Linked DNA regions of Homo sapiens: region 1 is linked to region 2. Evidence: fine-mapped expression QTL. A gene starts in region 2. The other region holds a variant in brackets. All regions are shown on one strand. Distances are between the middles of the regions. Region 1 has its middle 120 kb from the start of UBE2V2. Region 2 holds the start of SPIDR (scaffold protein involved in DNA repair).

What was found. PIP is the estimated chance that this variant, and not a neighbour inherited with it, causes the effect.
Region 1: its variant is the best candidate, but not a certain one, in a credible set for the expression of SPIDR in whole blood (INTERVAL, PIP 0.63).

What each region holds. Positions count from the first base shown.
Region 1 is chr8:48,129,243-48,132,150 of GRCh38, forward strand. No RefSeq gene overlaps it. Among named protein-coding and RNA genes, the nearest start is that of UBE2V2, 120 kb to the left of the region's middle. RefSeq lists an enhancer at 1,180-1,764. The variant G/T (reference allele first, on the strand shown) is at 1,309.
Region 2 is chr8:47,259,369-47,262,276 of GRCh38, forward strand. It overlaps SPIDR (scaffold protein involved in DNA repair), which reads left to right and starts at 1,570. Exons shown (of 20, transcript NM_001080394.4): 1 at 1,570-1,623. The coding sequence starts at 1,591. RefSeq lists a silencer at 1,284-1,833.

The DNA.
Region 1 (2,908 bases), 870 kb after region 2:
TCTGATCATTTTTGGGACTGTTTAATCACTATGATGTTGTCTAAGTTTAGTTGGATGTCCTTGCTTTGGCCAGGGTGTTATAACCACTCATAGATCACAGCTCCTTTCTGGCTTTTGACCCCTCCTTCCTGCTTTCTTTTGGTTACTGGACTTTATTGACCTAAATAATGAAAAAAGTGGCTCAAAAACGTAATGGATGTTTGAACACTGAAGACTTCTGCCTCAAGTCTTTGGAAGCCTCCTTGGTATCTTGTGTGGTATCAGCTTTGAGGACACGGGGTAGAAACAGATGCAGCTGTTTGTTACAAGCCTTTCCTTTTACAGATTTATGGGTGAATATATATATATATATATTTGAGATGGAGTCTCGCTCTGTCGCCAGGCTGGAGTGCAATGGCGCGATCTCGGCTCACTGCAACCTCCACCTCCAAGGTTCAAGCGATTCTCCTGCCTCAGCCTCTCGAGTAGCTGGGACTACAGGTGCATGCCACCACACCCAGCTAATTTTTGTATTTTTAGTAGAGACGGGGTTTCACCATGTTGGCCAGGATAGTCTCTGTCGCTTGACCTTGTGATTCACCCATCTCGGCGTCCCAAAGTGCTGGGATTACAGGTGTGAGCCACCCTGCCCTGCCTATGGGTGAATATTTTTAGGAGAAAAGCACTAAACCTCTCTGATGCATTTGTATAAACTGGATTTGCCTTGTTCCATTTCCCTTTTGCCAACATGATTGTTTTTTCTTTTTAGGGAGAGGTAGAGAAGAAAGAAGAAGCGCTTGTGGGCATCTGAAGTCTGATTAGGCTCCTTGGAGTTGCAAGGAAGCAGCAGCGGCCCAGGCCCCAAAGGCACAGAGAGCTCAAGGCGGAGGAGTTAGCTGGACGCTGTCAAGCTGAGAGCTTCAACTGGGGAGCTTTGAAGATTTGAACAAGACATGAAGAATGTTTTATAGCCTGTGCTTTAGAAGCGCCTATGCTGTGATTTTCCACCACACCAGAAAGGCGCCCAGTGGTTACTTTTCCAAAAGGTCAGAGGGCAAATGGACCGTTCCCCTTAATTCGGCGGGAAAATGCTGCTTGATAAGACACCATAATTCTTGTGCTCACACAGAGGCGATAAGCGGAGATCTGGCGAGGACTGCCTCTTCAGGTGGGCTTCTCTGAGATAACAGAGAAATTTTCCTGCTGTAGTGAATTTTCCTGCTGTAGCTTCTTGGCACCAGGGACATTAATGAGTCACAGGGTGTCTAGGACCCACAAGTACGGGTGATTCCAGGTGACCTCCGCGCAGTGATCCTGGTTTAGGGAGGG[G/T]ACTGGCAGGACACCGGGCAGCTGAGCGCCCACAGTGGAGGAGGCGGCCCCAGCAGTGGCCAGAAACAAGTTCCCTGAGTTGAAATGGCAGGACTTGGGCTTGAGGTGAGATGGAGGTCAGGAACTAATTGCAGGGTCTCTTCACCATCCCTGGCCTTGTCATTGCCAGCCCTTCCCGATGGCACCCCCTTTCCTCCTCCTCCTTGACATCCCTGAAAATGTTCACTGGGAGCAAATGAAAAAGCTTACGGTGGATGCTGAATATGAGGGTGTCAGCAGCTGCGTCAGGATGTGGCCTGAAGGAGGAGCATTTGGGAGGAGAGGGAGAGAGGCCGTGGAGTGGAGATTCAGAATAGCCTTGCTTCCCCCTTACCCCCAACACACAGTAGGACCTGGCTGGCTAGCAGAGGAAAGCACGCTGGGCCGAGGCCAACGGCAGAATGCGGACCGTGGTGGAGGGTGGCGGCCAGGGGTTGTCCCGCTTCTCCCCCTACTGCTCCTTCCCTGCCCGCCTCTCCCAGTGATGAGCGGCCCAGTCGTGCTCCTTTACTCCCGTGCTCCCACACTTAGGAAATGATAGTGTGTGTTTGGTCCACGGGGCGGGCGTCCCCGGGGGTCGGAAGCAGCTGCCTGAGCGCGGGCCTTGGGAATGGCAGGGAGGTGGCACCCTCCTTCCCCTCCATCAGTTTCAGTGAGAATCAAGTGGTTCCCACGGAGCCTCTCGGTTTCCTTTTATTTTTGTAATTTTGAAAATATGCATAACATGCACTTAACTATGTGTGTAATGCCCGTAGACTCAATTTCCAGTTTAAGTAAAAGGCCACCATCCTGTTTGAGGTCTCTAGGTCCCTCCGGAGCCATCCCTTTCTTCTGTCCCCTCCAAGTACTGTATCCTAAATTTTGTGTTTATCCCTCCCTTGATTTTCTTCACAGTTCTTCCACACGTTTGTTATTTTAAACAACAGCTAGTTTGGTTTTTCTGATTTTTGAGTTTAAAATAAACAGAATCATACTTTATATATTATTCTGTGATTTCTAGTTTCATTCAGTTCTGTGTGTCTCTGAGATTTATCCATGTTTTTTGTGTAACTGTGATTTATCTACTTTCCCTGCCATCTGGATTTTAGTTGAAGGAGTATACCATCCTTTTGTTATGGACATTGGATTGGCGTCTGGCTTTCTGCTACTGCAGAAAGAGCCACTGTGCCCACTCTCTTCCATCTCTTCCTGCACAGACACAGCAGGTCTCCAAGGCCCTTTTTTCCCCAGAGGTTGAGTTGAGGGGTCATAGAGCACATGCCTTCTTCACATTTTCTAGATTCTGCTCGGTTGGTTTCCAAATGGTTTTTTTTTTTTTTTTTCCAAATGGGTTGTAACAATTACTTTCCACTGGGCATGTGCACAGAGTTCCACATCCTTCCCCTTCCCAAGCGCTGGTATTGTCAACGTTAAAATCTTTGCCAGTCTGCTGGGTATGAAATGGTTTCTTGTTGTGGCTGCTAATGAGCTTGTGCGTTTTCATGTACTTAGAGCCGTTTTTTATTTCTCTCTGTGAAGTGTTTTCAAGCCTTTCCCCATTTCATCTCAGAGTTGTTTACTG
Region 2 (2,908 bases):
GCTACTAGCAGTCTGGGCAAAAGATACTAGTGGCCTGGGAAACAGTGGTAGTGGAGAGTGGACACATTAGTAAGACACACAAACGTGTTCACAAAAATTCCTAGGTTTCTGCGTGAGCTGTGGCCAGGTGGATGTCCATGCCACTACTGAGATGGCGAATTCTGAACAGGAGGAAGTTTGGAGAAAAACCCCAACATTTCGGCAGGACAGCACCTCCTGGTGGAGATGACAAGCGGGAGCCTCACCACAGGCCTGGTTGTGGGAGTGAAAGGGGGACTCCGGGCGCGGTCGGGTGCACTTACTGTGCTAAGACAGCAAGGCCCGGCGGAGGTGGCAATGGCAGACCTGGTTTCTCGGCGGAGTCCCAGTGGGAGGCCCGGTGTCCAAAATCCTCAACTAGATTGGGCATGCCGTTTATCTTGTTCCAACTGTTGACAGTAATGGCACTAGCAATAATGTCCTTCCCAGGCAAAGATGGTTTTTCTTCCGTGTTTTCAGCCACTGCAGAGTGGACATCTACTATGAACCAAGTATCTGCGGCTTTAGGTACCAGATTCAAACACAGAATGGTGGCAGAACAGGGACTAGGACGGAGAGAAAACCTGAAGATGGATCAACCAGGAAGCAATGCATTCTCACAGAGGCACAAAAAAATGCCTCTGAAACAGAAGATTCACCTCCACTTCTGCGTCCTTTTGAGGCAACTTTCTGAGCATCCTTTCCTCCTCCCCAGGCCAACGCTTTTCCACCTTGTTAAACTACCCGGTAGCTTTCTCCATGGGAGGCGCCTTCTTCACAGTACTCGGACCCAGTTACACTTGTGGCCTTCCCCGGCTTCTGCTGGGCCGGCTATGGTCGACGCCGCACCGTCTCAGGCCCACTTCTCCTGCGGGAGCGGCGGCCCCAGCGGAGCCCCTGTGCGCCACGGCGAACGTGATAGGAATGCAATCTTCCGCCCCTTCAGACTCTGGCACCCCGTAGCCTTTCCTCAGGCTCCACGAGTTCTCCCGGTGATGTGATGACCGACATGGCGTCTGGGCTCTGAACACAGACTTTACTCCTTCCCCCCGGCCCCGAAACATGGGGAAACCACACCCTCTCTGCTCCAGTCACCAGCAGCCACTCCCATTCCTTAAGTATCCATTATTGCATGTGTAGCCTATTGCATGTGTAGCCTACTTCTGGTTTTCATTTTTATTTAAGGTCAGTTGTTGCCTGACAACACAGACGACAGTAACTTAATTCGAAAGACAATACTTGGAGGCGGCCCCCGCTCCAGGCACCAGCCCAGCAGCTCCCCCGAACTCCCCAGGAGCTCGCGGGCGAGCAACGCCACAGCCCAGAGCGAGCTCCGCGGAACCCCCAGCCCCGGGGAAGGAAGCTCGACTCTCCGCGGGGCACTCCTTCCGGGCTCCGGGCCCGACTAGGCCATCCGGGAGGCCCTGGAGCGCCGGGGCCGGAGAAGCCCTGCCCCCCGCCGAAGCCCCGCCCTGCGCCCGAGCGCCCGCCAATGGCAGGGCGCGGTGCGGCGCGCCGAGGTGGGACGGCGGCGCGCTGAGGAGGCGGTGCGCTCAGGCGGCGCTCCCGGAGATGCCCCGCGGCAGCCGCGCTCGGGGCTCTAAGGTAGGCTCTGGGGCGGGAGTGGGCGCCGCGCCGTTTCCCGCGTTGCGGGGAAGCGGCGGGCCGGCGCGGGGCTGGCCCCGTTGTGCTGGGGTGAGAGAGGGTGGGCGTTGGGGGTGAAGGGCTAGGTGGTGGCGGGTCCCGTCTGCGCGCGTGGAGCAAGCCCGCGCAGTGGGGTACCGCCCCCAGGTCCGGCTCCGGTCCAGGCGTGCGGGCCGGGCCCTCAGCGGCGGTACGGAAAGCGAGGGGTGGGACCGCCGAGGGACGCAGCGGGCGGGAGCATATGTCCGCCTCGGGGGTACTTGGCCTTACTCTTGTCTCTTTTTGATTCTGGTGTAATGTACCAAACCGCAGGGAATCCTGGCGTGGTTTTACCCGTCTCCGCGGATAATCCACTGTCAACTCTGTCTCTCTTCCTGCCGCACTCGGAGGGGACTGTGCGGCTGACTGCCCAATCCGTGGGCACCGCGCTGCCTCGGGTTCCAGAACGGGAGCGGGTGCCTAGGAATCGTTGCTTGAATGGTGTTTGATTGCACCTGTATCCGCGAGTGCATCCTTTTTTGTTCTGCTAATTGTGCTTGTCATGGCATGTGTCCTTTATCGTTTTAAAGTTTCTTCTAACTTCCTTGCTTTCAAATACGTTTGTCTCATAGTAAAACGGTTTTTAAAAAGCAAACACAGGACCTCCTTTCTTGACTCTTGCCTTTACTTGAAAACTTCCTGGAAAAAATAGACCACATATACTGGTTCAACTTCTTTACCACTACCATGCTTTCTCGCTTCTCAAATACCATTGATTATCAGCCCACACTATCAGTTTTGTGACTGGCTTTAGGGAATAAAGAAATTCATTTCAGGCACCTCTTGATTATAAGATACAGTCTGATTTCTGAAGCATTAATGTGTGAAAAAAATCAAGGAAATATATAAATTTGCTAAATCCAGTGTAAGTTGTTTACTTGATCATTGGAGCGTTTGACACATTCACCACCTGCTTTTATTTCTTTTGGAACATCCATGATTGTTTTCCTGTCTTGCAACAGCTCATTTTCTTCTCTTTACTGTGTTCGTGCCATGTTCTAATTTTTGACCTTGTGCTTTTTCACATGTTCCATATTTGCTTTGGACAATGTCATACATTGAAGTTAACTATATAGATGACTTTCAGATCTATATTAGATCTTTCCCTAGAGCTCAAACTTAGTGCATCACATAATCATCATCTCACCCTTAGTCCTCCAGGCCCTAACAGTTTCTCTTGACTTAGAAATCTTAGTATTTTTGAATT